Homo sapiens: one gene and its partner. The protein of the gene in region 1 purifies or fractionates together with the protein of each later gene. This does not show direct contact. Each region holds a gene or a part of one and is shown on either strand. Other genes may lie near its edges. The genes, in order: IL17RD and SLC7A11.

Evidence for each region.
Region 2: the proteins of IL17RD (region 1) and SLC7A11 fractionate together in Homo sapiens (co-fractionation; one large-scale study listed by BioGRID). This does not show direct contact.

What each region holds. Positions count from the first base shown.
Region 1 is NC_000003.12:57,162,350-57,166,702, reverse strand, and holds the start of IL17RD (interleukin-17 receptor D isoform a precursor), read left to right. Parts: upstream 1-1,349; 5' UTR 1,350-1,416; coding exon 1,417-1,542; exon of another isoform or gene 1,543-1,735; coding exon of another isoform or gene 1,736-1,777; intron 1,778-4,353. UniProt on the Homo sapiens protein: Feedback inhibitor of fibroblast growth factor mediated Ras-MAPK signaling and ERK activation. Regulates the nuclear ERK signaling pathway by spatially blocking nuclear translocation of activated ERK without inhibiting cytoplasmic phosphorylation of ERK.
Region 2 is NC_000004.12:138,166,278-138,169,472, forward strand, and holds part of SLC7A11 (cystine/glutamate transporter), read right to left. Parts: 3' UTR 1-3,195. UniProt on the Homo sapiens protein: Heterodimer with SLC3A2, that functions as an antiporter by mediating the exchange of extracellular anionic L-cystine and intracellular L-glutamate across the cellular plasma membrane.

The DNA of each region.
Region 1 (4,353 bases):
AAAGACAGAGTGGAAGAGAAAGCCAGTATGGATTTTATTCTAAATGGCCTTTGCATAAGAGCCACCATAGAACAGTTTTATTTATTGATTTTATTTTTATTAATCCTCCTCCAAACACAGAACACATAATTTTACTGTTTTTTTTTGTTGGTGGTGGTGGTGGTAGGTTTGTTTGTTTGTTTGTTTGTTTGTTTGTTTTTAGAGACAGGGTCTTACTGTGTCACTCAGGCTTCAGTGCGGTTGGCAGGATCATAGCTCACTGTTACCTCTAACTCCTGAACTCAAGCGATCCTCTAGGATTGGCCACTGCACTCAGCCTAGAGTTTTAATTGGGATAAGTCAGTAGTCTGATTTGTGTTTTTGGAAGATAACTTTGGATCCAGGCTGGAGAAATGTATCGGACACGGGGACAAAGTCAGAAGTAGAAAAAGCCCTTAGGAAGAGGAGGTGGTATTCTTGAGGAAGGGGGTAGTGGAGAGGGACAAAGTGGGAGAGTTTAGGTGCTCAGATAAAAGGCAAAGCGCTGGGAAGAGTGCGGTGAAACTCTGGATAGCTTGGGCTACTCCACTTCTCTGAGCCTCAGTTTCCTCTTCCAAACAGAAATAATATCCACTTCATGAGGTTATGTTTGACAAGTGTAGTAGCTGAGAGTATTGTTTTTAGTCAGGTCTGGATTGGATCTCAGGTCTGGCAGGTAACAGCTGTGTGACCTTATGAGAGTCAGTTAATGATAGATTGTAGCCTTTATGGAGCACTTGTTATGTTTCAACCAACAGAACTCTCCCCAGACTAGGATACTTATTCTAGCTTCCAGGAGGGTGAGGGGGACGGGGGGTTGTGGTGAGGAAGTATTGTGGAGACAGCAAGCCTTTTGTCCAAAGTCCTACTAGTAAATGTGGAGCCAGGATTTCTCTGTCACGTTCCCCTAACTTTTCTGCGCCTAAAACTGGGATAACAATAATACACTTCCTTGTGTGGTTGGGCGTATACAGAAAGGGGTCTGGCACATAGCAGGTGTTTATTAAATTATTATTAAAATTATTATTATTACATTCTTTGTGTTTTCCTCAGGTTTTGCATAGAGTGAGCATCACTTGGACAAATCCTTTGGATTAAAAAAAGATCTACTAAGTGAGGGGGAAGAAACTGCGGCTGCCAGAGTCTCAGTGGGGGCTTGGGGGGCGTGACCAGAGGGGCGTGGTCTACGGGGGCAGGGCCACAACTGGAGGGCCAGGCTGTGGGGGCGGGGCCAGCACACGAGGACTGAGGGTGGGGGCGGGGCCCGGGCTGGCAACGCATGCCCAGTGCGGTCCCCTTCGCTGCCGCCGCGGCCGCCGCGGCCACCGCCCACTCGGGGCTGGCCAGCGGCGGGCGGCCGGGGCGCAGAGAACGGCCTGGCTGGGCGAGCGCACGGCCATGGCCCCGTGGCTGCAGCTCTGCTCCGTCTTCTTTACGGTCAACGCCTGCCTCAACGGCTCGCAGCTGGCTGTGGCCGCTGGCGGGTCCGGCCGCGCGCGGGGCGCCGACACCTGTGGCTGGAGGGTAAGGCGAGGGCGGCGGGTTTCTTGCCGTCGCCAACTCGCGGGGGACGCAGCGCGCACAGGTGCTCGCGGGGAGGCGAGCCCGCGCCAACCTGTCTGCTCTTCGCGGGGTCCGCGGCCGGCCTGGGTCTCACTCCTCCCGCGCATCCTCCTGGTTTCCCTCCCCGGACGCGTGTCCTCCGGCCCTGGCCGAGATGAAAGCGGCTGCCCGACCCCGGCTTTGTGTTGCTAATGAGGTGCGGCCGCCGGCCGGGGTCCCATTCAGAGGGCGGGCGTGAGGGGCGGCGGGGCTGGGCCGGGCGCCCCACCCTTTGTTCTTGGCCCGGGACCTCCTTCGTCCCAGGGCTGCGTGTCCCGGGCTGGGATCCCCCGAGCCACCCGGACCGGGTTGCGCTTTGGAGAGGGAAGGGGGTATTCTCCCGGACTTTCAGTCCACAACCCTGCTAAGGCCCGGGCGGCCGGAGAGGGGACTTGGAGCACCGGGGAGGGATGCGCCCCGCTCTTCTAGTAGCTTTGTTCCTCCTCGCCTGGGGCCGTCACCCCACTCCTACCCCTCCTCTGACTCCGGGACCTCCTGAGAAACTTCGCCTCCCGGTTCAGCCCTTCGTCTTGTGAAGGTCTCGCGGCTGATATCCTCCTTCCCTGCTTCGAGTTGCGGATATTTTTCCGCCAAAGGGCCGCGTGGGTGTCATCTGGGTGAGGTGCCTGAGACGAGACTGGAGAGGTGCCCAGACTTTCGCCGTGTGCATTGAGCCGTCTTCGTGGAACCGAGCGCTCCTTTGACACTGTCTGGGCGATGGGCGCGGGTGATTGCCATTCCCCTCTCAGCTTCCCTGCTCCCTACCTGGGCTTCTGGCCTTGGGCGGCCCCAGAACCTGGAGATGATGTCCGTCTGCCCCGAGTCTCCCACCGAGGCCCGGGTGGGCCCGGCGTCAGGGCACTCACGGCCTTAAGCTTGTGGAGAAAACGTAGGCTTTGCACTCAGGCAGCAGGGACATGACCTTGGCTCTGCTCCTGGGGAGCCATGAGCCTCAATTTCTTCATATGAAAAATGGGATGAAATGAGAATTTCCTTAGTATTGCTGGGCTGAGGGATAGGTATGGAGTGGTTTGCTTAGGCGAACGTTGACTCAGCCTCTTCTGGGTGGCTCTAAACAGCCTCAGCACAGCCAAAACCTAGGACATAACACTCCCTTAGGCACGCAGGCTGGTGCCTCCAAGCTCACTTGCCCCACAGTCCCAAGAAATGTGGTGCAGAAAACCAGGTGTGAGCCAGACAGCTGGGATGTCTTCAGACTCAGTAGCTAAGCTATGGAGACGGCTATGACCCCTGCTCTGCCTCCGCCCCCGCCACCCCCTTCCCCCCCCGCCCCCCCGCCCCATTAGGCTCTGTCATTCCTTCCTAGTTGAGTAAAGCATCACATTTTCTTACTGTGTTCCATTTCAGTAAAACATTACTGCTCTTGTTTTATTGTTTAAAAAAATTTTAGTAGCTAGCAAGTTTCCTCAAGGAGGATCTCGTGTTGACTTAAGGATCCTACTAGAATTTTGGATTTAGACTCCTATTGGCTTTTGAATGACTACAATATCACAGGCGTTTTATTTTGAGTGTTCATGTGATGGCGTAGGTAAATCAGTCCGATTCACTGTTTTGCTGCAGTTGCCAAGGTGGCTTCTTATGCCACTGTACAAAACTCGTGAAGTTTCCATGCTGTGGGGTATGGTAGTGCCCTGACGGAGCCAGGCTGGTGATTTTCTTCTACCTGTGCGAGTGTGTTCTCCTCTCCCAAACCTGCACCCTCATAAAATGGTGGCTCTGTCCCAGTCACCTCACACTTATGCTGACGTTTTCTCCACCACAGCCCCTAGTTGGGGGTGACTTTTCTCAGCTGCTCCTGCCTTGGCCCCACCAATCGTTTCCTTGGGTCATCCTCATTCGCCTCCTGGACGATCGTAGAGGCCTCTGGGCCATGTTCCAGATTCCAGGCTCATCCAGGCTGATACATGGTTCCTTGTCTCCTGGATTTGCTGCTTGGTGGATTTCATGGACCCAGTTTCCCCACATGCTTTGCATTCCCACCCTTTCCAGCCTCACCCCCTACCCTTCTCATCCTGCTCCTAACTCCGGATGGATGCCCTCTGTGCTTCCAAGACATGCTTTTCCCTCCTCCCAGGATGCCTTTTCCTCCCTTGAGAATTCCTTGCCTATCTTAAGACTCAGTTCAGGTGGTACCTCCTCAGGGAAGCCCTCCTGAATGCCATGCCCCTTGCTTTACCTTCTCATGCAGGTCCTTGCACTTTAGTCTCATCAGACAGCTTTGTCAGTATTTGTTCACTTCTATGTCTTCAGACTAGTTTCTTTAGCCAGGCACTGAACCTCATCTTGGTGGCGTCAGAGCCCTGTAAATATTGGCTGAACCAAATTAGACCCTGCTGCCTTCCTGCTAAATCCTGTATTTCCTGATAGATTTTAAGAAGTAGAGGCAAAGATCAGGGCATCAAGGTCCATTGTCTTTGCACATGCTGTTCCTGCCTGTGTTCCTTTACACCTCTGCAGCTTCCTTTCTCGGCCCTAGCATCACTTCTGCAAAAAATTGTCCCTGTCCACACCTCCCTAGGTCATGTCTTCTAGAAGTTGCTCTGTCAGGGAGTCAGCTAGGAAGTACTGGTACACAGTGACTAGAGTATTTGATTCATGTTTGGGTCCCCTACCAAATAAGAGGTACTTAGTCCATAGATGTTGGCCTCAGCTCTAAGGTTGCTTACAGTGGGGCTGTAGGAACATAAAAGGATAAGGGTCGACTATATGTGA
Region 2 (3,195 bases), on another chromosome or scaffold:
AAGTCAGACCACTCACAACCCAACAAATTATACAGCTTTAACATGCAAAGGCCTAATAGGTTTTCCCACAAGATGCTGTAATAATACCCTGTCACACAAGGTACTCAAAATACAGTCACCACTGCAAAAGAGATACCTGTGCATTACTCTTTTTTTCCCCTCTGGCTTTCAGCACGGCCTTCTGAGGCTTTAACAAGAGGTAATAAGGACTTAGCAAGCAGTTCTCCTAACCAATACATTAATTCACTTGAAAGTCATACTTTTAAAAAAAATCAGTAGTGTATATGTTGAGGAAAAAAAGCATGTTCACTCTGGAACAAAGTTGGCCCTCTATGGCTCTCAGATGCCTAATGCTCTACAGTTTTGTGAGAGAATTGTTAACTGTAAAGCTGTAAAGGCGGTTATTGGTACTATAAATGTACACTTGATTCAAGTACGCTGAAACACACACATGTAACAGCTATTAGGACACTGTAACCGTCCTCTGTGTATTTTAAGGCCAATAGTAACAGAGAGGAGGGAAAAAAATAACTACCAAGAAAATAAAACTAATGGGTAGATTCACACTAAGAAAATCTAGGTAATTATATAAATTCATTGTTATGAGGTTGTAGAAAGGACAGTTATCTCACGACATATGGAAAATTGGTGAATTTCCTGTGAGACTATGATTTATGCTTTTGTGAATGTATACCTGATCTAAAATTAGACAAAACATTTATTTTTAGACACCAACTAATTGGAAAATATAAGGAAAGAAATAATTATCTCCCAAAATTGACTATTAAAAAATAATTTTTAAGTACAGTACTAATAAACTAAGGATGACCTAGAGAGCATACCTTTAGCTATTATTTAAAAATCTTTTTTTTTTTTTTTTTTTTTTTTTGAGATGAAGTCTCGCGCTCTTGTCCCCTAGGCTGGAGTGCAATGATGCGATCTTGGCTAACTGCAGCTTCTGCCCCTTGGGTTCAAGTGATTCTCCTGCCTCAGCCTCCCGAGTAGCTGGGATTACAGGCGCCTGCCACCACGCCCGGCTAATTTTTATATTTTTAGTTGAGACAGGGTTTCACCATGTTGGCCAGGCTGATCTCGAACTCCTGACCTCAGGTGATTCGCCCGCCTCAGCCTCCCAAAGTGCTGGGATTACAGGCATGAGCCACCGTGCCGGACCTATTTAAAAATCTTTTTGAAGTACAGTACTAATAAACTAAGGACTACCTAGAGATCACACTTTTAGATATTATCTATTTTAACATAGATTAAAAATACTGTTTATATGAAAATTAAGCTTAAATACACGTATAGGTAATAATTATTTTGCCCATATACAAGTAATGTAAACAGAGGCTATCAAGGTGACCCATTATCTACTCTAATTTATATCCACTATGAGCTTCTTCCCAGTTGTTATACAATGCCATATTTTAATTCCTGACTGAATGGTTAGGAAAGCAAAATGTAACTCTGTAAACTTGATCAGCACTAATGTACAACATATTATGGAGGGTAAAGTGAAGCAAGAATATATTCAAGTAAAATAAAATGTCTTTCATGGGCATTCAAATCCCACATCTCTCTATATTTCTTTCCCAACTAAGAGCTATAATTAAAATCCCATTTATTATTTTTCTATAGTTCAGAATCAACGTATAAAATATGATGAAAGTGAAACTATCTCCCTATATATCACATCATATATATTGTGAGAAAGTCACTTGTTATATATGGATATTTCAATTAACTCATAAATTTTTAAAAACATATCCTCCATACTTATTTCTAACAGAAAAAAATAACAGGAATTATTTTACTTTACTCACATGGACAATGCAGATTTTGTGGGGGTAGAAGTGTACACAACTTTGCTGGTCTTCTTCAACAAAATTAGTACAGAATTCCTAATACAAAGTTAGGTTCAGGACCTCGAATGGAACATGTCTAAGTGAGAGGCACTGAAGCTTAGGTTTCATTAGCTTCCTGCGAGATCCACCTATGCACAGCAAACAACTAATTTTTAATATTTCTCTGACTATATTGCATAACATTAAAATATTGTTACCTTCAGTCCATACTATCTTTCATTTCCTGATTCTCTGGCCTTCGGTTTTTTATCTTTTCATACCTTATACCTCAATTACAAAAGATCAACTTTAACAAAGGTCAGAGTTGCTCCCTTTCTTAGCAGTATATTCATCTGCAAATCAAGATAAAATAATGATTTTCCTGTAGACTGATTACAGTTCATGAGGAATTCTGTTATGTAATTATACTCTTGTTAACCCTCTATTGATATGTCAAATTGTAATTGGGGAAACAATTTTACCAGACACATAAGACGAACAGGAAATCTGTTTCAACGTGAATATCTTAGTGTTGGAGAAACCGTCATGCATTGCTAACGTAACCTAATAAGCTGTCCAAATTTTGTGTCCACAGGGCTGAGGAGCTACAGTCTAAATGCATACGCATGTTGGGAACCGAAGTCAGCCATCTTCCCTAGGACAAATCTTTACTCTTCTAAAGAAGGACAAGAATAAGGTCTACTTTCAGCTAACCATTTATAAGGTTCAGTTTTCATTGGATCAAAGGAATATAATCTAATACTTTTTAAATGGGGTCAAAACAGTATTATAAGGAAAATATTTACTGCAAATATTTATAATTGTGTAAGGAGAATCATTCTTTTTAAAATCAAGTTGTGTTTTAGCTTTAGAATCTTTTAAAATCACAAGTATTTGAGAATCCATCCCCACAAAAATTAAAAAATACTATATTAGTTATTTTAAACAGTATTCATTACTTTTACTGTTTATGTTATAATAAACTTATGTATATAAACATTTGAATATGCATGGTACAAAGTACAAGTACAGAACATGTAGTAAGTAGTATGTGCATGTATGTGTGTGTGTGCATATCGTATAAAAATATGAGAAAAATTTTACTTATATAAAAACATATATATAAATAAGTGTTCAGGAGAGTTTTTGAGAATCTGCTTTACATACTGCAATTTTGAGTGAAAATTATGGATATTAATTTCCTGATTAAAGGAACTGTGTCTTCTCATGATGAGTCCTAAAAATAAGCCAAAATACTACTTAATCTCCATCACTTTTTTTCTTAATTACTGGCTGACTTTTTTTCTGCGTGAAATGGCATTACAATGGCAGGGAAATTTAATAATGCAAA